Regions from separate parts of the Homo sapiens genome. Here region 2 is linked to region 1. The links come from fine-mapping of genetic effects on gene expression. A gene starts in region 1. The other region holds a variant in brackets. All regions are shown on one strand. Distances are from middle to middle. Region 1 holds the start of PIKFYVE (phosphoinositide kinase, FYVE-type zinc finger containing). Region 2 overlaps IDH1 (isocitrate dehydrogenase (NADP(+)) 1).

Region 1 (11,803 bases):
AATTTGGGAATCTTTAGCATGTCTTGATAACAGTTGAAGACAGAGTATATATTATCTAGGACTTCAAAGTAAGGAGAAAAGTCAATCTCAGTGAGAACTCTGAGGGACACTTACGTCTTAAAGGTCAGGTAGAGGAAAAGGAGCCCCCACAAAGAGAATGAGAAGGAGAGTCTGGGGGTTAACAAAGAATCAGCAGAGCCTGATGTCATAGAAGCCAACAGACAAGAAAGTTTTCAAAAAAGAGGGAGTACTACAGAGAGATTAAAAGAAAAAGACAGGGTCTGAAAATAATTTTGGCAAAAGGAAAACCTCTTGAATGCACTTTTAGTAAAAAGGCTCTATGAGGATGAAGAAGATAGAAGTGGAATGGTTCTACGAGGATCAGAAGATAGAAGCCATACTACAGGGGACTGAAGCATGAATGGGGGGTATGGAAAGGGAGACAAGAAAACCTTTTCAAGAAGGTTGATTGTAAAGTGAAGAAAAACACTTTTTTATTTTTGATACGGAGTCTGGCTCTGTCACCCAGGCTGGAGTGCAGTGGCACGATCTTGGCTTACTGCAACCTCCACCTCTACGGTTCAAGTGATTCTCCTGCCTCAGTCTCCTGAGCAGCTGGGATTACAGGCGCGGGCCACCACGCCTGGCTAATTTTTGTATTTTTAGCAGAGATGGGGTTTCACCATATTGGCCAGGCTGGTCTTGAACTCCTGACCTCAAGTGATCTGCCCGCCTTGGCATCCCCAAGTGTTGGGATTACTGGCGTGAGCCACCACGCCTGGCGGAAAAATGCTTTTAAAAGTCTTAGTCAACATACTATTGATGTCTACATATTTTAAAAAATTATTTGTATTACTTCCATGTTGGTTGTGTTGGTTAGAATGGATTTGATTATATTGCTTTCATGTCATTTGTGTTGGTTTGTATTGGATGTTTCCTTTTTGTTTCTTTAATGTTTAAATGGCTGTGACAAATGTCTTTATCTTCCTTTTTTAAAACACAGATCAATTCTTTGGGCTACATTGCTAGAATGGGAATTATTAGATCATGAAGTATAAATATATTTAAGGTGCTTGTTAAATCCACCAAATCATTTTCTAGGGGGGAATATACCAATTTATATTTTCACATGCAGTGTAAGAGAGTGCTAATTTTATTGCATCCTAGCTGGAACTTAGTTTCATAATTTTTACAAACATGTCTGCATCCCTACTAAAAGGAATTGGTGCTCCTTTGAGAGCTGATTGATTCTAGGCCCGGGGCAGGGAAAGTTCAAGATGAGCCTGCTGGGTCAAAAAGTAAGGAAGTGCTCTCAACAAATTAGGTATAGCAAGAATATGCCTCAACACAATAAAGGTTATATATGACAAACCAACAGTTAACATCATTTCAACAGTAAAAAAGAGCTTTTCCTCTAAGGTCAGGAACACGACCAAGACATGCACTCTTGCCACTTCTATTTAACATAGTACTAGAAGTCCTAGTCAGGGCAATTAGGCAAAAGAATGAAATAAAAGGCATCCAAATTGAAAAGGAAGAAATTAAATTGTACCTGTTTGCAGATGACATGATTTTTTTGTTTTTTTTGGAGACAGAGTGTTACTCTGTCACCCAGGCTGGAGTGCAGCAGTGAGATCTCGGCTCACTGCAACCTCTGCCTCCTGGGTTCAAGAAATTCTCCTGCCTCAGCCTCCTGAGTAGCTGGGACTACAGGCATGCGCCACCATGCCTGGCTAATTTTTCTATTTTTAGTAGAGATGGGGTTTCAGCATGTTGGCCAGGCTGGTCTCGAACTCCTGACCTCATGATCTGCCCACCTCTGCCTCCCAAAGTGCTGGGATTACAGGCGTGAGCCACCACACCTGGCAGGTTACATGATCTTATACATAAAAAACCCTAAAGACTGCACCAAAAAACTATTAGAATAAACAAATTTAGTAATGTTGTAGGATATAAAATCAGTATACAAAAATGAGTACTGTTTCCAAATATTAACAGTGAACTATCTGAAAGAGAAATCAATAAAACAATCCTATTTGCAATAGCTACAAAAATATATTAAAATACTTAGAAATAAATACGGGCCAGGTGTGGTGGCTCACACCTGTAATCCCAGCACTTTGGGAGGCCAAGGCAGGCGAAGCACGAGGTCAGGGGTTTGAGACCAGCCTGGCCAACATGGTGAAACCCCGTCTCTACTAAAAATACAAAAAAATTAGCTGGGCGTAGTGGTGGGCACCTGTAATCCCAGCTACTCAGGAGGCTGAGGCAGGAGAATTGCTTGAACCTGGGAGGCGGAGGTTGCAGTGAGCCGAGATGGCCCCACTGCACTCCAGCCCGGGTGACACAGTGAGACTCCATCTCAAAAAAAAAAAAAAAAAAAAGAAAGAAATTTAACAGAAGTAAAAGACCCGCACACTGAAACCTATAAAACATTGATGAAAGAAACTGAAGAAGACAGAAATAAATAAAAAGACATCTCATGTTTATGGGTTGAAAGAATTAATATTGTTAAAATGTCCAAAGTGATCCACAGATTCAATGCAATCCCTATAAAAATTCCAATGACTTTTTCGCACAGCTAGAAAAAAAAGTCTAAAATTCCTATGGAATGACAAAAGAGGCTGAATAGCTAAAGAATTCTTGAGCAAAAAGAACAAAGCTAGAAGCATCATACTGCTTGATCTCAAAATACACTACAAAGCTACAGTAATCAGAACAGCATGGTACTGGCAGAGAAACAGACAAACCAACTGAACAGAATAAAGAGTCTATCAGTTAATAGGATGCTCATTTTTAAAAAAAAATAAAAAGTGAAAAAAAGAATAAAGAGTCCAGAAGTAAATTTACCCATTTACAGTCAATTGTTCAATAAGGGGACAAGAATACACTATAGGGAAAGGATATTCTCTTCAATAAGTAGTAATGGGTAAATGGGATATCCATATGCAGGAGAATGAAATTAGAGGCTTATCTCATACCATATATAATAATCAACTCAAATAAATTGAAGACGTTATGTGTACCCCCTGAAACTGTAAAAAACGAGAGGGAAAAGCTCCATGACATTGGTCTGAGTAGTGATTTTTTAGATATGACCCCAAAAGCACAGGCTACAAAAGCCAAATAGACAAATGGGATTACATAAAACTGAGAAGTTTCTACAGAGCAAGGGTTACAATAGACAGACTGAAGAGACAACAGAGAACAGGAGCAAATATTTGCCAGCCATACATCTGATAAAGGGATAATATCCAAAATATATAAGGAACTCAAACAACTCAATAGTAAGAAAGCAAATAATCTGATTATAAAATGGGCAAAGGATGTGAATAGACATTTCTCAAAAGAGGACATACAAATGGCCAACAGGTATATGAAAAAAAGTTCAACGTAATTAATCATCAGACAAATGCAAATTAAAACCACAATGAGAGATATCACTTCACACCTATTACAATGGCTATATCAAAAAGACAAAAGATAACAAGATTGGAGAGAAAATAGAGAAAAGGAAACCCTTGCACACTGTTGGTAGGAATGCAAATTAGTACAGCCATTATGGAAAACAGTATGGAAGTTGCCAAAAAATTTAAAAATAAAACTATCATGTGATCCAGCCATCCCACTACAGGGTATATATCCAAAGGAAATAAAATCACTATTTTTTCTTTTATTGAAATTAAAAAAAATCTTTTTATAGAGATGGGGTCTTGCTATGTTGACCAGGCTGGTGTTGAACTCCTGGCTTCAAGCAATCCTTCCATCTTGGCCTCCCAAAGTGCTAGGATTACAGGCGCGAGCCACCGTGTCCAGCCAAAATCACTATTTTTAAGAGGTATCTGCACTCCCATCTTTATTGCAGCATTATTCACAATAGCCAAGATATGAAATCAACCTAAGTGTCCATCAATGAACAACTGAATAAAGAAAATGTGGGGCTGGGCACTGTGGCTCACGCCGGTAATCCCAGCACTTTGGGAGGCTGAGGCAGGTGGATCACGAGGTCAGGGGTTCAAGACCAGCCTGGCCAAGACAGTGAAACCCCGTCTCTACTAAAAATACAAAAATTAGCCAGGTGCAGTGACAGGCGCCTGTAATCCCAGCTACTCGGGAGGCTGAGGCAGGAGAATAGGGGTGGGGTGGAGGTCGGGGGGGTTGGGGCAGAGGGTGGAGATTGCAGTAAGCCCAGATTGCACCACTGTACTCCAGCCTTGGTGACAGACTCCATGTCAAAAAAATAAAATAAAATGTGGTATATATATACGGTGGAACATTATTCAGCCTTAAAAAATAAGGAAATTCTGTCTTTTGTGACAACATGGATGAACCTGGGGACATTATGTTAAGTGAAATAAACCAGACACAGAAATATACCACAAGATCTCATATATATGGAATTTAAAAATGTTGAACTCATAGAAGTAGTGGGTAGAATGGTGGTTGCCAGGGGTAAGGGGTGGCGGAGAGAGAAAAAGAACAAAAAGTAAGATGTGCTCAAAAGGTAATGGAGGCATGTCAAATGGACTCAGGAGTCTGCTGGAAGGGGCTCACACCAGCCAAGGCGGGGACACCTGGAGCACAGAAATGAATAGTGGCAGTAATGAACTATAACATGTTGGAAAAAAATGAGTCCAAAGTCATACTAACCAATATAAAGAAAGAAAGAAAAAGATGGAACGCTATTAGTTGCAGTAAAATTCAACTAATACATACAGAGGAATAGAAGTATAATATCATCGAACAATAATTGATTCAGCAAGAATCCTAAATCTGTGCTTGAATGAAAGTTTTTGAGGAGGATATATACACAGACAAATAATCTCTCTACAGATAAAATTCATCTGGAATTAATTTTGGATGTCTAGTGTGAAGTGAGAATCTAAAATGATTTCTTTTGCAAAAACAGTAGCCCAGTTTTCAATCTCTTTTCCACAGAAATTAAACTGTAAGCTAATATAGATATTAGACGGTAAGCTTCTTGAGGACATGGACTGTGTAATGTTCACATATATTTTTATTTTTTAGGCTAGTCAAGTGAAGCAGTGGGATACGTTCATAATTCTATCCTTAGTGTAGTGCTTCTATAACTAACACACTGCAGGTTAAATTAGGGACTCAAAAATATTTGCGGAGTGCACTTTTTTTTTTTTTTTTTAAACCATAGATGGAGTTTCTACATACACTGCAGTCGTCGTGGCTGGGCAATTTATTCTTTTCATATGATCTCTGTACCTATTTCATACTTTATTGTAGGTTTATGAAATATTAACATAGGGTGATAATTACGAGGGCCTTTTTTGCTTATCTTAAATTTTTAAAAAAAATTTTTTTAAAGGAAGGCAGAGACTTGAGCATCTTTATGGGCTGAGGAGGCAGAGTCATTGGAAAAGGGGAGGTTGCAGATACGGTGCAAGCTCCCAGACAGGAGAGGGTGAATTGGGGGCCAAAAGGATTGAGCTGGGGAAGAAGAGGCCCCTTCCTCAGAGAGATGAGGGAGAAAGGCAGACCAGGGCAGATGTGGATGTAGGTAAATGTTGTGGTGTGTGGGGAATTAGCTTGTTAAGGGTCACGCCCAGATACCTTGGGATTTTTCACGTGGGTATAAAATATGATTCTCTGATGAGAATGATGGTCAAGGTAATGTGGGGGTCGTGGTGGTGGTCTGACGCAGCAGTAATAAGGAATGGGAGAAGCTGACTACAGACTCCCAGAAAGATTGCTGAAGGGCCCAGCTGAGGATGGTGACTGGGATTTGCACTGGACTCAACCTGCAGGTTTCGATGGTGCTTTCCAACTCCAGGAAAACTGGGCTGGGATTTGACAAAACTCTTGAGGAAAAGGACTCACAGAATTTAAAACTGCATTTCCCTTTAGGTTTCGTCTGCTTTCCATCCTCCCCTACCAAGCCCCACAACTGCGGCGAGCATGTTTTCTGCAGTTAACTGCACTGCGCTCTCAGCAGGACAGAAATGACGAATAACTCTAGCCAAGCTGAACAAGATAGGGCTTGGGCTTGGTAACTTTATTTGCATCAGCATTTGCAACACAACACCTAAATGAAAAAATTAACTATAAAGCCGACATCACTTACTCTGGGTCAGGGAACTGTGCCATTCGCTTTAAGTGCATTTACTTAATCTCAAAAAAGTATTAAGAAGTGAGTCCTTTTATTAATCCGACTTTACACACCAGAGGTCTAAGGCCTAAATAAATGAGCAATTTGCTTAAGATCATATGGCTGGTTATTGGTGGAGTCATGCAAGTCTGGAAACAGAGTCATCGCTAACTCCGGTTCAGTGCTACACGAGTGAACTGTCTACAACAAAGCAATAACATATTATGAGTGCCCACAGTATCGAACACATACGGTAACCGCAGTCCAGCCAGCACCCCTGCAGTGCCCAGAGCACCAAGCACCCATCCGTTGACCCCGCATGCGTGACGCTCACGCGCGCAGTCCCCCTGGCTTCTTCCAGGAAGGCTGAAGCGGCCTAATCTCGGCCAAAAGATCAGGACGACTCGATCTGGGCTGGACTCCTTCTGCCTGAGCATCTGATCCGAGCGTCGGCCGGGCTGGGAGGAGCCGGCCCCCGGGAAAGATTTCGGACTGGGGGACAGGAAAACAGAGGGCGGAGTCTTGGGGGGGGGAAGCGAGAAGCCGCATCAACCATGTAAGCAGCTTCGCTTCCTGCCGCAACCGTCCGCGGCCTGAGGAGCCCACCGCCGCTCTCGGGGGCCGACTTCCGGGGGCTGAGCCGTTGAAGCGGAGGCTGGGGCGGGGGGCAGCCGGCGCGGCCGGGGCAGGAGGCGCAGGTAAGGGAGGGGGCCTGGAGCTTGGCCGGCTGGGGCTCAGCATGGGAAGGAGGCCGGTATGGGGAGCTCCAGGGCCAGAGCTGAGGTGAAAGTGAGAACCAGGGCTCCGCAGTCGGGGGCTAGGGCCTGGCTGCCGGCTGAGCAAGGAAGGGCAGAGAATCTGGCTTTAGAATTAGCTTGTCCTCCCTATTCCCCGGCTGCCTTGTCTGGCGAGTGGGGACGGAAGCCGGGTGGGGCCCTTGAGATTTCCTTGGAAACATTTGAAGTTCCTTTGCCTCTCTCTCGACCCTTACGCCTGAACTTAATTAGGAGGGGAAGAGTACAGTTACTTTTCCCTCTGAGTGCATGAGTTCTGAGTTTGTCAGAGGCGCATCCGTAGGCTGGAAAAGAAAGTTCATGAGCTGCAGAAACGATACCAACCGTGGGGGTTCAAATAAGTGTTTGTCTTTTTAAATGCTTGCCTCTGCTATTTGAGACGATTCCATTTCAACTTAGGTTTTGGAGTTTCTTGAGGAGGAGCATTATTTCCCAATTAGTGTTTACCCTTTGCTTAGAATGTTCCCAACAAAAGGATGAGAATGGAATGTGTTGGAAACTTTTAGGACTTAGGGGTTTTCTGCCCAATCAGAGGTTATTCCTAAGACAGTCAAGAAATATAAGAAGTGCTAGAATTCTGTATAAAGCAAGTTATTCGTGTGTATCTGATGTGTATACATGATTCATTATCTACTATTGACGCAGTGCATCCTGTGTTGTAAAATATGTCCAGTGTTGACAATAGAGGTAGTCGCTTGGTATAATGTACTTATTTCTGATTTATTTGAGCCCCTTTTTTGGCACTCCAAAACTCCCACTCTGTCAGTTTTCTTACAAAAAATGTTCTTTCTTTTGTGTTTGTGACAAAGATTGTGTAGGTTAAATCTCTTCTGTGGAGCAAGGCTAATTTCCTGTGTTCTCCCTTTTTCTGCTTTCTGGATCCTGCTCTGGTTTTCCTTTAAGCGTGTTGGTCAAAAATTGAACAAGAAATCTTTGTTGATAGAAGCTAACATTTCCAATATTCAGCTTTCCTAAATTATTACATTGCCAGTTTTTTTTTTTTTTTTTTTTGAGAGACAGAGTCTCGCTCTGTCCCCCAGGTTGGAGTGCAGTGGCGCGATCTCCTCCGACTGCAACCTCCGCCTCCCAGGGTTCAGGCGATTCTCCTGCCTCAGCCTCCTGAGTAGCTAGATTGCAGGCGCGCGACACCACACTCGGCTAATTTTTGTATTTTTAGGGGAGACGGGGTTTCACCATGTTAGCGAAGCTGGTTTTGAATTCCTGACCTCAGGCGATTCACCCGCCTCGGCCTCCCAAGGTGCTGGGATTACAGGCGTGAGCCACCGGGCGGGGGTCTCCCTCCCTCGCCCAGGCTGGAGTGAAGTGGTGTGATCTCGGCTTACTGCAGTCTCCGCCTCCCAGGCTCAAGGGATTCTCCTGCCTCGGCCTCCCAAAGTGCTGGGATCACAGGTGTGAGCAGCCACGTCCGGCCTTTACTGACTGGCTTCTGATAGTTTGTAGTAGGTCTGCATATATTAGTAGCCTTAATTAGAAATGGTGAAGTATTGGTGATATATCAGAAGGCTTTGGGTAGGTAGGTTAATAGGACTGATTACCACTCAGGAAAGAGTCCTAATTTATATTTTAAAGCGTTGTTAAGCTGCTAAAGAGTGAGAGTTATAAGATAATTTTTTCAGGGCCCTAGTGTCATTATGTAATTATTAGGGTTAACTATATGATTGGGTTTATATTTCAGAGACTACACTTGCTAAGTGTTTTCATGGGAATTTTTATCTTCTTATTTCCAAAGCCGAGTATAATTTTTGTGTAGATAACCTTTAGAAGTAATTCTAAGACTCTTTAGGCAGAATGTCATCTCTGCCTCTGACATTACTTGTGTCAAAGTAGAATGTAGGCTGTTTTCCAGGGGTGGTTGTTACGGCCATCACATTATCGTTTCTCTCCAGAGCTCTTTTTTTTTTTTTTTTTTTTTTCCCTAAATAAAATAGAGATGAAGTCTCGCTATGTTGACTAGGCTGGTCTGGAACTCCTGGCCTCAAGCGATCCTCCCGTCTCAGCCTCCTAAAGTGCTGGGATTACAGACATGAGGCCACAGTGCCTGGCCTCTTTTTTTTTTTAATATAAAAAAAACACAAACTTTTTTTTGAGTGTATACTTATTCAGTTATCAGCTTACTTCCCAACACTTTTTGCTGAATTGTCATGACACTTCAGAAGGATTGTTGATGATTATTCTCAGTGGAAGATATTAGAAACCTTCCTTCCCCTTCTTCTTCCTTTTCTCCTTCCTCTTTCCTTCCCCTTCCTCTTCCTCTTTTTCTTCCCCCCCCAATAAACATGTATTGCCAAAATTCTGTTTAAGTCAGTGGTTTCATTTCTGCCTTAATTTATTAATTAAATTATTGATCAGACAAAGCCTTAAGTAGTTAGAGAACGCGGATAGGCTAAAAGGGAAGTGTGAAGAGCTACAAAAGTAATTTTGATTTAGGTAATACTTTTGGGGTGAGACTTGGGGTATAGTGACAGTTCTACTAATGTCTGTGTGACCCCCAAGAAAGTTGTTTTAGGTTCAGAGTACCTTGGTTGCCTCAAAGGTAAAATGTCATAAAGCCAGCTGTGTGTGCCTTCCAGGATTGTAAGAGTAAAATGAGATGGTAGCTATGATTTTGAATGTGAAAAGCATTTTACCGAGACTGTAATGTCCTCTTTGTAAAGTGGAGACTAGATTATAAACTATAGTATATATATTGTTTTCTCCAAGGGAGGAACCTTGTCTTTATTTTGAAACAGTAGGTAGCCTCCTGGTGGCTGGAACATGCTTCTGCCTGCAGGGGGCCCATTGTCTGGGCCCTAGGGATCTACAGAGCTCAGTAGGCTTAGGAAGTGTTTCAGGAAGGCCTCCTAGTTGATGCTGTCCTCATGTCCTGCCAGAACAGTCTCCATCTCCTCCTCAGCCATCTTCCCTCCCAGGGTGGTGAGGACTTGTCTGAGCTCTGCTCCCGTGACTTTGCTGTTCCCCTCCTTGACTAACACATGAAGCCCCTCCAGGTAGTCCTCATATGTGCCTTGGTTCTGCTTCTTGGCTGCTGCCTGGAGCATGGGCAGGAAAGTCTTGAAGTCCACATGCCGGGACTTCAGGTCATCACTCTTGGGGTTCCCCAGGACCTTCATCACCTTGGCACTGGTGAGGTTCTGGTCCAGGGCCCCCATCATGTCCCCAAACTGGCTGTATGGGATCTTGCCATCCCCCACTCAGTTAAACAGCTTGAAGGCCACCTTGAACTCCTCCAGCTGATCCTTGTTAAACTTGATCACCACTTTGGAGAGATCAACTGGGGGCTCCTTGGTTTTCTCAGGGGCCTGGGGGATGGGATAGCTGGCTCAGCTTTGGTCTTGGCTGGAGGGGCCCATGCTGCTGCTGGCTTGGCAGCACCTTTGGAGATGGAGGGCCCTGCTGGTTCCTCCCAGAATATCCTTGGGAGGCATGATGTCTGGTGGCCAAAGGACAGTGTGCGGATGGGGGCACCCATCTCTTGCAGGGTCCGTGTCTGGGCCAGACTACAGTATTTTTTTTTTTTTTTTTTTTTTGTGGATGGAGTTTTGCTCTTATTGCCCAGGCTGGAGTGCAGTGGCGTGATCGGCTCGCTGTAACCTCCGCCTCCTGGGTTCCAGCGATTCTCCTGCCTCAGCCTCCTGAGTAGCTGGGATTACAGGTACCCGCCACCATGTCCAGCTAATTTTTGTATTTTTGGTAGAGATGGGGTTTCACCATGTTGGCCAGGCTGGTCTCGAACTCCTGACTTCAGGTGATCCGTCCACTTCGGCCTCCCAAAGTGCTGGGATTATAGGTGTGAGCCACCGTGCCTGGACCAGTCTACATTATTTTAATGATTAGAGTTATCCATGGTTCTTCTCTTTGAAATATAAATCAATATGGCAGAAAATAGTACTTTTCTGTAACTTCCATCTGGTGATGTGGTTAGCTTTATTGCTTTGGTTGAAATATGATTTTTTGGTTATTTAGAAACAAAGCCCTTTAAGAAGATCTTCATCTTAATGTCTATGAATTGAGGCTTAAAGGGAGGAAAAACCAGGTTCATGTGTTTAGGAGCAAAGATAGTGGGGAACAACTTGTTGATTTGAGTAGTTGTCATAGGTCATGAAGTGTAGCTTGAGGTAATTGTTAAAGTTTTGTAGACATGTCATTAGAGAATGACTTTCATGTCCTCGTCTTAGAAATATAATGATTTTTATATTACTTTTTAAAATATAAAAGTTGAGGCCAGGCATGGTGGCTCATGCCTGTAATCCCAGCACTTTGGGAGGCTGAGGCGGGTGGATTACCTGAAGTCAGGAGTTGGAGACCAGCCTGGCCAACATGGTGAAACCCCATCTCTACTGAAAATACAAAAAATTAACTGGGCGTGGTGACTGCGCACCTATAGTCCCAGCTACTCAGGAGGCTGAGGCAGGAGGATCACTTGAACCTGGGAGGTGGAGGTTGCAGTGAGCCAGGATCACGCCACTGCACTCCAGTCTGGGCGACAGAGCAAGACTCCATCTCCAAAAAAAAAAAAAAAAAGTTGAAATAAGGAAAATAAGACTGAAGAATTTATGTGTGTGTTGTATAACTAGCTTCCCCCCATAACTTTAAAAAGCTGTTGTGTATCCCTTCTTCCGAAACATCTTAAAATGAAAGAGCTAGAAATGATGTGAAAATGCTTATTTTTCTTCTGCCTGCTCACATTAATGCTTTACCTCCAAATTTTTATTAATTTAAATCTTTTCTATAATTTGAATAGTAATGTTTAAAATTGAGTTGGCTATCAGATCATAGTTGTAGATGATTGGGGCTCTTATGATTTAGATAGCAGTGTTTTCAGTCCTTTGGAATATATGAAGCTAGATTTATTTACTGTTTGTTTTCATAG
Region 2 (13,248 bases), 21 kb before region 1:
GTGCCTGTTAAATAGGCTACAAAGGTATTCCACTGATAAGACCATTTTGAACACTGCAATCTTTTTTTTTTTTTTGAGATGGAGTCTCGCTCTGTCACGCAGGCTGGAGTGCAGTGGCACCATCTCGGCTCACTGCAAGCTCCGCCTCCCAGGTTCACGCCATTCTCCTGCCTCAGCCTCCCGAGTAGCTGGGACTACAGGTGCCCGCCACCACGCCTGGTTAATTTTTTGTATTTTTAGTGGAGATGGGGTTTCACTGTGTTAGCCAGGATGGTCTTGATCTCCTGACCTCGTGATCCACCCACCTCGGCCTCCCAAAGTGCTAGGATTACAGGCATGAGCCACAGCACCCAGCGAACACTGCAATCTTGTTGGAAATTTAAATTAAGAAACATGCAGTGACCAAGTATATCCCCATTATGGGGTATACTGACCCTACCTGGGACCTCTGCAGATGCACTGGTTGAGATATGGAGACAATCCCCCCAGGATACTGGCTACTATGTTCTCAGAAAAATTCTCAGTAAACATATGGGCTGTCAAATATTTGCCCAAATATTGGTTACAGATACTTAAGGGACTGTAATCAATTGCACACCTTAAACTTGTGCTGCTCACTTTTCTCATCAGTAAGTTAAAGAAAATAAAGGAGTAGAATAAAATAGCCTCTGAAGTATCTTTGTTTCTATTTGTCTATAATCTGCTTCTTAAAATTAAATAGAACCTTTTCGTTCAATGATTATCAACTAGATGGGATGTCAGCAAATTACAGCCCAGCACATGAACCAAATCGAGGCTGGTTTTGAACATAAAAGTTTGATTGGTACCAGCCACACCATTTGATTCTGTATTGTCTATGACTGCTTTCCTGCTACAATGGCAGAGGCAAAGTTGAATAGTTGTGTAGTTGCAAAAAGACTATATGTTCCACAAAGCCTAAAATGTTCACTATCTGACAATTTACAGATATCTGCTGACTCCTGAACTAGATGATGAATAACAATTTATATAATTCCAGAAAGCACCGATGCTCTGAGCCCAGTGAGGATAAGTGTTAATTTGACCATAGAAACTAGGGCATCTTATACTTACTTGGGTAAACCTTTAATGCAAGCAGCCAAGTCCTTGGTCATGAAGCCAGCCTCAATTGTCTCAATAGAGACTTCTTCCAAAGCATTTGCAAAGAAGGCAAGCTCTTTATTGTTATCAAGCTTTGCTCTGTGGGCTAACCCTCTGGTCCAGGCAAAAATGGAAGCTAAAAGAGGGGAAAAAAAACACAACACTCCAATCATCCTAGTTATAGAGGTTTCCAAATGTCTCATAGTTCCCCAAAACAGAATAGTTTTTTGTTTAGGTGACAGACTTCTTTAGATACTAACCACATGGGCTAGAAGTTTTAGGAGAGTTAGAAATATTTTACCAAACAGAAACTTTAAAAAAACACATTTTCATGGCATGGTACTAGTGTTTGAAACTTAAGGCATTTTCTAATTTGAAAAAGGTCACAATCTCTTCTATCTCTTGTCTATATTGGTCTCCTTTTTCCAGGCTGTAATCTCTTTTTGAAGTGCTATCTTTGAAACTTGTTAAAAGGATCTATCCATGTGACTTTTAGATTTGTAGCCTTATGTGACATTTCACTGCACCAGAGGTAAAGGAAAATGCTTGTTGATAACATTCCTCTCTGTAACCTATGTTCTCCCACAAAACAGAAAAGCAAATATTGTATATTTTAAGAAGCATATTCAAATAGATCTTACTAGTAGAACAAATCAGCTACTTGGTGATGACTTTGCACACAAAACACTGAGCAGCCAAGGGAACACATCTGGGCTGCTTTGGAGAGCACTCTCTGGTGAGAAATCAATGTAAACACCATCTTACCAATGGGATTGGTGGACGTCTCCTGTCCTTTCTGGTACATGCGGTAGTGACGGGTTACAGTCCCGTGGGCAGCCTCTGCTTCTACTGTCTTGCCATCTGGACAAACCAGCACGCTGGTCATCATGCCGAGAGAGCCATACCCTGTAAGTAGTGGAGCATGAAGCGTTGGGTCCAACTGCATGAAGAGCACTGAGTCTCTCAGAGATGAGAGCATAAATGACTCAATCTTGATAGGTCTTGGTAAGCAAAGTAAACAAGAGCACATGGAATCACCAATAATTCTGCCTTTCAGAAGGCAGGATCCCCGCTCCAGATATCAGAGCCAATGGGTCTGGAAAGGCTGCATTTTCCCCTCACTTATTTCAGGGATACCTACTCCTTGATGGAGGGTTCAGGGTCCAACTGCCTACATTCCACTCTAGTTCTATGACTTCATAGCTACTGCGGCTCAGTTTTCTTATCTGTAAAATGGGAGTAATAACAGCACCTACTTCACTAGGTTGCTGTGGGATTAGATAAATATACATATATTCATAAATATATATGAATATATATTTATATTCCTTAGAATAGTACTGGACACAGAGCTCAATCTATTATTGTTATTCTTATGTGCAATGCTCTGCTGTTCTGGGGAAATAAAGATGGACGAGAGCTGTCTCTTAAGAACCCTCAAGCTGCTCATACACTTGCTGGGACTGGGAAGAGAAGGCAGGTAAACACAGGATCGGTTGGATCTAAGAACATCCCAGTTGCCCTTCCTCGCTCTCTTTCATACCCTCAGTACAACAGTTCTCTTCTGTGGTTTCTTATTGAAAGAACCACATTACAACTCTTATATCTATATAATTGATTTTCTTCTTTTCTCCATTTTTGCTACCTCCCAACATCACCTGTGAAGTTAATAATCAACCACGGAGTCATCACAAAGCAATAACACTCCTTCCTCTGTTGCATTCAGTACAAATGATTGTGAGGATGTAGAGAAACAGAAGGATGGTAAGGAGAGTTGTGTAACTCATTTATCTGGCAAAAAGTTATCTTTAACCAGGTTGATCTACTGATTTTCAAACTGAGAGGAGATGTTTAACACTGATAAGAGACAGAAAAAGTAGTACTTCTTGGGAAAAACAAACATAATTAAAGTTAACAAACATTCATCTGGGGAGATTCAAGTTCATACAGCTACCAAGGGCAACTGAAACTGAAGGGCAACTTGGTGCTGAGGAAACCAGGCGCTGTGTTTCTGTTGATTTGGCCCTTACCCCATGCATGAAACTTCTCCTGGAATTTCTGTAAACAGCCCCTAGGGTTCTTTGCTCAATTGATTTGTGTGTAAGCTAAGCAGTAAACAAAAACACTTTTTCTTTGTTGTTGTTGAGACAAGAGTCTTGCTCTGTTGCCCAGGCTGGAGTATAGTGGCGTGATCTCAGCTCACTGCAACCTCCGCTTCCCAGGCTCAAGAAATTCTCATGCTTTAGCCTCCTGAGTGCCAGGGACTATAGGCATGCGACCACACCTGGCTAATTTTTTTTTTTTTTTTTTTTTGAAGTAGAGATGGGGTTTTGCTATGTTGGCCAGGCTGGTCTTGAACTCCTGGCCTCAAGTGATCCACTGCCTTGGCCTCTCAAAGTGCTAGGATTACAGGCGTGAGCCACTGTGCCCAGCCAAACACATTTGTTTTATATTCTACCAGAACAGCAGCTGGCAGAGGGACATGAGTAGGTCCTGCTGCCCAATAAATGAGCTTTGCAGGCACCAAAGCTTGGTTATGACATGATCAAGCTCCTCACTTTATCCCTCCTTGCCTGAGTGCCCTGGTTTTTTACATTTTCACCAAAGGACAAGGAGGGCAGGGAAAGGGAGTGATTTTCAGATCAGGTAGGCTTTAAAACTTCAAGGAGTGACACTGGAGCCAGGAGTGTCAATCCACTAATTTACTTCCCATGTGGTCTTGAGTAAATCATTTCTCTAGTCTGAGCTTAATTTCCTTAGCTGTCAGGTAAGACGGTGGACCTGGAGGTTTAACATTCCAAGATTTTACAACAAAGGACTACAAAACTCCCCTTCCCAAATTAGAGAACTACCCTGGAATGACCCTGTTCCTACAGGCCAGGCTCCACCTCTGTACCTTGGGCCACAGAGTCCGACTGCACGTCACCATCATAGTTTTTACAGGCCCAGATGAAGCCTCCCTCTGATTTCATAGCTTGGGCCACCATGTCGTCGATGAGCCTATGCTCATACCAGATCTTTTGAGCTTCAAACTGGGACTTGTACTGCCTGGGAAACAAAAGGTAAAAGAGAATAATAATAAAGAAAATTGATTTTGTTAGGGATATCATCTGCTTGTCCCAAACAGAAGACCGGACACACAAGAAGCAGCATATTTTAGTAGAAGTAGCAGAAACTCAGGAATCTGACAGACATTGGCTCAAATCCTAGCCCAATCATTTTCTAACTGTAAAACTCAATTTGACTATCTGTAGGAACAATTTTACCCACCTTGCAGGGAAGCCGTGAGAATTAAGTGAGACAGTAGAGTATCCCAATGACTACTTCACTTTTCAGTTTTCATTATACTATAGATCAGATTCTTGAGATTCAGCTTATTTTTAAAATACATTTTTGAAAAGACTGTTCTACTTCTTGGTGTCATTCAGGAAACTAAAATATATTCCAGACAGTTTCTGGGCTTGGTATAGATGGGCAGCAGGAGGAGGAATCAAAATGCCTCAGGAACATTTTGGCCTGAACACTTGCACCTAAAGGGAGTTATGCCAATCTTAAATATTAACACATGCTCACCTCCTGTGCTGTGGAAGCCAGTGTTGTTATAAACTTAGACTTAAGTTCAAATGACTCCACTAAAACAGAATTTTAAATTCTTTTTTTTCTTTTCTTTTCTTTTTTTTTTTTTGAGACGGAGTCTCGCTCTGTCGCCCAGGCTGCAGTGCAGTGGCGTGATTTCGGCTCACTGCAACCTCCGCCTCCCGGGTTCACGCCATTCTCCTGCCTCAGCCTCCCCAGTAACTGGGACTAGAGGCGCCCGCCACCACGCCCGGCTAATTTTTGGTATTTTTAGTAGAGTCAGGGTTTCACCGTGTTAGCCAGGATGGTCTCGATCTCCTGACCTCGTGATCCGCCCGCCTCGGCCTCCCAAAGTGCTGGGATTACAGGCATGAGCCACCGTGCCTGGCCAACAGAATTTTAAATTCTAACAATGGGCTTCAGAAAGAATGGAAATGGGTCTGACTTAGAAACTCACACATGAAAAATTAGAACTTATCACTAACAGCGTACGTTTATTTAAACATTAAAGAACCTGGCTCTGAAAACAATTCATGTGGGGACCTTATTTAAGAACATGTTTATCTTATAAAAGCAAGTCAGAGTGGTTTTGTTTCACTCCTGCTAAACCTCAGTTTTGCCCTTATCTTTAAGAGACAGTGATGATTTTCACTCAATTTACCCAGAATCATAGGGATAGGGAGATACATACTCTATATGCAAATGTCAGCTTACTTGAGAATAAAGAAAAAGTTAAAAAAGAACTATAGTTACTTGTCATATATCTCCTGAAAGATGTCTTTAAAACGCCCATCATATTTCTTCAGAATAGTGTTTTTGGTGCTCAGATACAAAGGCCAACCCTTAGACAGAGCCATTTGGAAGGAACTGTGTGCAAAATCTTCAATTGACTTATCTTGATTATACATCCCCATGGCAACACCACCACCTTCTGTAGAGGAGAAGCCAGTGAGAGGAAAAAAGGGAGAAGAATAAATGTAATGTAGTTGTAATAAGGCTAAAATCACCCACCACAACCAAATGACCTACTTCTCAGCTCTCACATCTGAGACTAGATTTCAGAAGTCCCAGACAGGTTTCCAACAAATTTCTGAGGCACATAATGAGAGAAAAGCCAGTTCTAGATAAGGACATTCTAACTTGTTTTGGAAGGACAGCAGAAATGAAAAAACATACAGTCTTTAAAATCCTGAAGATGCAGAAATGCCAAAAACTGATATGAACCAGAAATACATTTAAGAAAAGGCAAATAATTTTGAAACTTCTTTTACATACTGATATGGTT[T/C]GGATATTTGTCCCTTCCAAATCTCATGTTGAAATGTGATTCCCAGTGTTGGAGGTGGGGCCCAGTGGGAGGAGATTGGAACATGGGGTTGGATCCCTTATGAATGGCTTAGGACCATCCCCTTTGGTGATTACGTGAGTTCTCGCTCAGTTAATTCACTTGAAATCTGGTTGTTTAAGAGTCTGGGACCTCCCCCTTCTCTTTCTCTTGTTCCCGCTCTTGCCATGTGATACACCTATTGTCTGTTTGCCTTCTGCCAAGATTGGAAGCTTCCTGAGGCCCTCACCAGGAACAGGTGTTGGAGCCAGGCTTGTACAGCCTGCAGAACCATGAGCCAATTAAACCTCTTTTCTTTATAACTTACGCAGCCTCAGGTATTTCTTTATAGCAACGCAAGAATGGACAAACACCCTACCTTTACAATTCCCAACATCTATTTTAAACTTTAGGGGTGTACTCAATCCTCAGTTATTGAGAAAAACTTAAATTTCAAATACTGAATGAAAATTCTTATAATCTCCTGGAGGATACTGAGCACTCCTACTGTAGTTGGTAGAAATAAGTAGAAATAATTATGCTACATGTAATCACTGTGTTTTACAACTATTATTGAACTTTGTTATTACTTAAAGATAGAACTTGAATCCATGCCAATGCTCAGGGTTAACTTGGGTTCAGGGTGAAAGGTGCTGAAGCCTGCAGAACCAGATTCCAACAGATATTATTTGGAAGAGGCAAGAAAAACAAAAGGTAGGTGAGTGTTGGGTATTTTTGTTTGTGTGAGTGCTTTCAACAACTTCAATAGTGAAGGAAAAGGGCCCACTAATTATTTCAACAACTTTTGGGTGGGATTTGCCATCAAAGGTAGCAGGGTAGCTGGGAAAGAAAAGGCAAAAAGCAAATGTTCTACTTTTTCACAGGATAAATACCCAGAAGGGCAAGAAGAAAACTTCAGCAAATATATAAGGAAACCTCTTCCAGATACAAGAGCCCTACCAGAGCAAAGGGCAGGATTATATGCTGGGTGATTTGAGAATATTAATATTTAATGTATATAATTCATGCACAGCAGATTTCTGCCAACCTTCTCTCTGTGCTTTAAGATAAATGCATAATCATCTCCTTGTCTTTGCCTAAAGGCATTTCCAATTAAGTGGGTAACCCTTTTGTGCCTTTATTCATGCCACAGGAAGGTATGGAAGCAAATTACTTCTTTATGTCAAGTTTCGGGTTTTGCAAAAACACTGTAGATTCAGATTATATTTTTAGGCAGTCACATAACTAACAAAAAAAGCAATAAAAATATTATCTAAATCATTTGTTTAAAAAAAAAAGAAGCTTATGCTACAGTCATACATACCTTCAAAGTTATGTACCAGGTATGTCACCTTTTGGGTTCCGTCACTTGGTGTGTAGGTTATCTCTACTTTTCCAGGCCCAGGAACAACAAAATCAGTTGCTCTGTACTGTGTAGAGGGGAAAAAGGTATAAAGAAAAAAAAAATACCCTAGCAGGAATTGTAAGGAGAATATTCATATAATATAGACCTAGAAGACACCTAGACAAATAGGGCAGTATGTCAAACTTCTTTTTTTTTTTTTTTTTTTAGGAGATGGGGATGAAGAGGTCCAGACATTCCCCTAAATCAGTAAATATTTATTAGGTGCCTATACGAGGTATAGGAAAGTTTTCTGAGCACTGATTTGAAGAGGACAGAGAATAACATAAGCCACTTTCCTTTAGGAAGTTTACAACCCTATAAAGACATATATAAGTGAAAAGCAATATAAGAGCTTTCAAATGCCAAAAGAGGGTATTAGACCCCCCCCCCAAAAAAAAAAAAACTATAGGATGACAGAGGAAAAGAGGTGACCATGGAAGGAAGTCAGGGAAGTCTCCCTAGAGGGTGATGATAACAATACTAATTGTAGTACTGAGGTAGCTAATGCTTTGTCCTTACTCTATGCCAGATGCTTTAAATGCTTAACTTGCATAATCTCATTTGATTCTTACATCAGTCTTACAAGGAGGGAACTATGATATAGTAGAAATAATGCATCCAGGGTCAAAGGACTTGAGGTCTCGTCCTTACTTAGGCCATCGGGGCTCGGTCTCTCATGGTATCATTGTTACTAGTGTTATAGGACTTGTTCATATGGAGCAATCAAATCATTCTGGGAGCAGCTACAATGGGATGATGATGATTTTTAGGAAAGGGCTGTTCAAGGACAGGCACCTCCCTCATGGGCCTCAGCTACTCAGTGGAATAATATGCCTGGCATATACTAGACATCCATAAGTCTTTGCTGCATTGTATCTTCTTCAATGAATTGAATCAGATACTTGCAGAGTTAGGTACCAGCAGGTGCCGGCCACATCTATAAGTGTAGAGAAATACTAATAACAACTGGTAAAAGAGCAGTAAGTAACAATAAAGATTAAACACCTACTTTACACAGAACATTTTTGACATATAAAATCCATAAAGTAAATATGGGTGGTAATTTATTACTATTTCTGAAAAGGGAGAAACTGAGGTACCAAAGCACCATAAATGCTTTGTATAGGTTTATGTATATTTAAACAGTCCATGAATCAACCTGAGGTTTGAAATTCTCTTTCTGGACTTTAATAAATAGAATGGCCATTTTTACAAATGACTGATGCCAAAATAATTAAAAAAAAAAAAAAAAAGAGGAAGGCCGGGCATGGTGGCATGCCTGTAATCCCAGCACTTTGGGAGGCGGAGGCGGAGGCGGGCGGATCACAAGGTCAGGAGTTTGAGACCAGCCTGACCAACATGGTGAAACCCCGTCTCTACTAAAAACACAAAAATTAGCCGGGCATGGTAGCATGTGCCTGTAATCCCAGCTACTCAAGAGGCTGAGGCAGGAGAATTGCTTGAACCCGGGAGGCAGAGGTTGCAGTGAGCCAAGATCACACCACTGCACTCCAGCCTGGGCGACAGAGCGAGACTCTGTCTCAAAAACAAAAAACAAAAAGGATATACGCAGAAAAAAGGCACGACTGAACTGGAAAGAATCTAGGGTGATTTTTACAAGATTAGCGAGTTTGCACCACTGCCATCTACCTTCCCTTGCTTGGGCCCCTGGGAGCTATTTCTGAAGGCTTTGGCCAGGATGAAAGGATAGTTTTAGCCACAGAGTGGAACAAAGTTAACTGACCCCTCAAGGACTAAACTGTTTACCCTCAACACACTGTTTTCAATGATGGCTACATTAAAACCTCTGGATTTCAGCATGAGAGATTCCTGTTTTTAAGGTCCTTTTAAGACATAAACTACTTTCTGTGAAAGTCTGAAACCTCAGTTTCAACACTGAACTTTGATTTTGTTTACTTGGCAGTTTTTTTGCTTAATTTGGCAACAAGTGTACTGGTACAGAAGTAAAGAAGCAATACTTTTTTTCCAGGCAGGAAGGAATGCTTTAGTAAGGCTGCTTTCAACTACCGAGTCAGTTTTTTTTTTCTTTTTCTTTTTCGAGACAGGGTCTTGCTCTGTTGCGTAGGCAGTGGTGTGATCATAGCTCATAGCTGTAACCTTGAACTCCTAGGCTTAAGGGATCCTCAGGCCTCAGCCTTCCAAGTAGCTGGGACTATAGGCACATGCCACCCCACTCAGCTTCGCCTACTCACTTTGTATATGAATAAACAAAACTGGCTCTTCCATGAACAATTGACATAATTATTGAAATACTTTTCATTTTTGTAGAGACAGGGTTCTGCTATGTTGTCCAGGCTAGTCTCAAACTCCTGGCCTCAAGCAGTGCTTCCAAATTGGCCTCCAAAGTGCTAGGATTACAGGTGTGAACCATAGTACCCAGCCAGTTTTTTCTTTTATGCATGATGGGATCATGTTTAATACAATCTTTGGTGGTTCTCAAGTTTGCACATTAGATTCACCTGGGGAGCTTTAAAATGCCTGAACCCCATGGAATTCAGATTTTAATTTGTGTAGGGTGGTACTCAAGCATTGAAACTAAAACAAAGAAACAAATCAAGCAAAGCAAAACAAAACCACCAAAAAAACTTGTAAGGGGATCCTATTGTGCAGCCAGTGTTGAAAACCACAGATCTGGTTGAACCATATGAAATTACCAACATAAAAATGGCAATATCATATGGTATAACTGAATAAAAGGATAAAGGAAAAAAAACAGCATGTTTGAAAAAAAATGTGTTGAGATGGACGCCTATTTGTAAGTTTATTTGTATTTGCCTTTAGCTAAATGTGTGTAAATATACAGTTATACATATATGCATTTCTCAATTTCATACCTTGCTTAATGGGTGTAGATACCAAAAGATAAGAATAAAACACATACAAGTTGGAAATTTCTGGGCCATGAAAAAAAAAACATGCAAAATCACATTATTGCCAACATGACTTACTTGATCCCCATAAGCATGACGACCTATGATGATAGGTTTTACCCATCCACTCACAAGCCGGGGGATATTTTTGCAGATAATGGCTTCTCTGAAGACCGTGCCACCCAGAATATTTCGTATGGTGCCATTTGGTGATTTCCACATTTGTTTCAACTTGAACTCCTCAACCCTCTTCTCATCAGGAGTGATAGTGGCACATTTGACGCCAACATTATGCTTCTTTATAGCTTCTGCAGCATCCTTGGTGACTTGGTCGTTGGTGGCATCACGATTCTCTATGCCTAAATCATAGCTTGAAAGAGAAAAATTAGAAGCAAAGTTTTTCAGACAAATGGATAGTTATAACCTACAACTGCAGTGATGGCATATAGAGCTCATTATGCAGAAAGCGAAGGCTCTGAGTACACCAAAATCTGCCAAGTTTTAGCACTGGCACACCCTAAACACAGAAGATGGGTGCCAACTACAAAGAGAACTAAGAGAGGCTAGACTGCTGGGCTGCCCCTCCTCTTGTAATGGGAAGCTGTCTATCAGGAAAATGAATGGAAACCATCAAACTCTGCCCTTTGCCTCCTGTTTTTCACCAGATAGAGGCAATAATGGCCTGGTTTCTCTCCATATAATTAGTATAATAAGTGTAAGTCTAAGGACCACCTTTTTCCCTTAGTAAATATTGCTCTTTAAAAATAAAAGGGGGTGGGAGGGGTTAAAGGATTTTTTGTATTTTGACGTTGAAGTGGTGGGAGGTAAAGATGTGACAGTTGATGCCAAAAATGCGAATGACTACTTCATTAATGCCAGTTAGTCATAAAATGAGCCTTTCCCTTTTTTTTTTTTTTTTAGATGAGTCTCGTTTTGTTGCCCAGGCTGGAGTGCAGTGGCACGATCTTGGCTCACTCAACCTCTGCCTTCCTGGGTTCAAGTGATTCCCCCGCCTCAGCCTCCCCAGTAGCGGGGACTACAGGCATGCACCACCATGCCCAGCTAATTCCTTCTGTAATTCTTGAGCAAGTGTTTGCTCTGGAAACAAGCCTACAATTTATTGGGTAAGTAAAGGAATCCATCAATGGTTTTCTACATACCAGAGAGTAATAGCTTAATATACACCAACACAAAGATTGCAGGTCATTCAGAGCTGAAAGAATGTTAGTTGTCCAGGGAGCATAGAAAATGACTGCAAAGCTTTATTTGAAGCATGCAATAGTTTGTTAAAAAGCAAGAAAACAAAATAATGTTTTGTTTATTCTGTTCTCCAAGGATTTAAAAGGTTTTTCAGCTCTTAAAACCTGCCTCTAGATTTCTTTTTGGTTCCCTTATCTTCCTTTCTTAGATCTCCTACCCAACTCATGATGCAAACAAAGAGATAGTAATCTTGACATATTTCCAAATAAAAATAACTTCCAACTGCTTCGACTTTAGATAATTCATATAAATCTAACAAAGTCATGTCCTTTGTTATCTTCTTGCATAGGAAATGTTGATCCAATCCCAACTCCAACAGGAAGTATGATCAGTAGTTTTCAAGTTCCTAGGAACCATTTCTCATAAGGAGAATCTATCAGCAAATTATTAGATTTTTTGCTTGTCTTCTTAACATTTCTAAGAAGATAAGAAAGGAAGGAACAAATTGCCCAGACCACTGTCCAGCCTACATAAAACAAACTACCTGCTCCATTCTCCTGAAAAAGAACCAGTCAGTGATAATAATAGGAATTTTGGAAAAATTTAAAACTTGTTTGAGCCTCCAAAAATTATCTAGTCTGCAGCCACCAAATTTTTTCCTCCTAGTCATAGTGACTCCCCTTTAAAACTCCTCATGATTCCACACTAAAGAGGCTCAAAGCATCTTTAGTTGCAGCCATTATAAGGAAAAGAACCCTGCCAGTTCACCTACTGTCATGTAAAGTCCTGAAACAGGAGTTCCTAAGATGCTTTTTTTTTTTAACCTAGTTGGAAGATGTTTTTATGCCTAATTTCTTATGTTTGGTTGACTTCTGCAAGTATTTATATCTTATCATGATTTCAATATAGACATCAGCAGCTTAGGTTTAGAACAATTAAAAAGTATGTTTAATGACATTATGTGAATTAAATGTCTCCACTCAAACAGGTCCTTAGGACAAATTTTGATGACTAATTCTGGGCTGAGGCAAACACACTTAGAGTTGCCAATAGTTTGGCTGAAACGTGTTGCTCAATATTTTTCTATGCCAGTCTTCAGCCACTTTACCCTTTTAAAAATTCTATCTCTACCTAAAGGTACAAAGAACAGAAGCAAGTTTATGAAAAACACAGCGAAAAAAATGAGAGAATTACATAGACTTTTGCATCTGTCCCCAGGCACTTTACACACAGGGCAAAGGGACACAGGATTTAAGGGAATTTTGCTGGAAAGGAGGGGTTCAACTAAGAAACATCATGAATTCTTTCTGCACTACAATTGTATGAAAAGGGCAAAAGGTGAGGCATGAAAAGGAAACAGGTCCATTGACTAAGTAAAGTGATAGAAAATTGAGTTTGAAATGACAAAATTGTGTTAACTGCATTTAGTTTACTGTTTCTTACATCCTCTCTTATTTCCCTTTTCTCAATACATTGTACTATTCTTAGCCACTGTTTTATTACAAATAAAACCTTCACAGGAAACAGAAGGTTAGAAGAATCTGAAAATCATTCTTTCCCTTATAATTCTTGACTTTTAGATGATAAATCCAGTTTTTCTAGCAGTATGTTAAAATTAGAAGATTCATCTGAATATATTTAGGCTTAAAACAAACTTTATTCACAAAACACAGCTATATCTATATAAAAAAAGCTAACTTCACCTCAAAATAATTCAGATTATATTCTTTTTTTTT

What was found. PIP is the estimated chance that this variant, and not a neighbour inherited with it, causes the effect.
Region 2: its variant is fine-mapped to the expression of PIKFYVE in blood mononuclear cells (TOPMed, PIP 0.96). The same link has a PIP of 0.9 or more in fibroblasts.

The regions. Positions count from the first base shown.
Region 1 is chr2:208,259,600-208,271,402 of GRCh38, forward strand. PIKFYVE (phosphoinositide kinase, FYVE-type zinc finger containing) reads left to right here and starts at 6,656. Exons shown (of 42, transcript NM_015040.4): 1 at 6,656-6,816. It also overlaps the pseudogene MYL6BP1. RefSeq lists enhancers at 6,493-6,542, 9,876-10,377 and a silencer at 6,673-6,942.
Region 2 is chr2:208,237,979-208,251,226 of GRCh38, forward strand. It overlaps IDH1 (isocitrate dehydrogenase (NADP(+)) 1), which reads right to left. Exons shown (of 10, transcript NM_005896.4): 4 at 10,391-10,682; 5 at 7,341-7,446; 6 at 5,449-5,626; 7 at 4,016-4,167; 8 at 1,885-2,025; 9 at 1,093-1,255. Among named protein-coding and RNA genes, the nearest start is that of IDH1, 10 kb to the right of the region's middle. The variant T/C (reference allele first, on the strand shown) is at 5,981.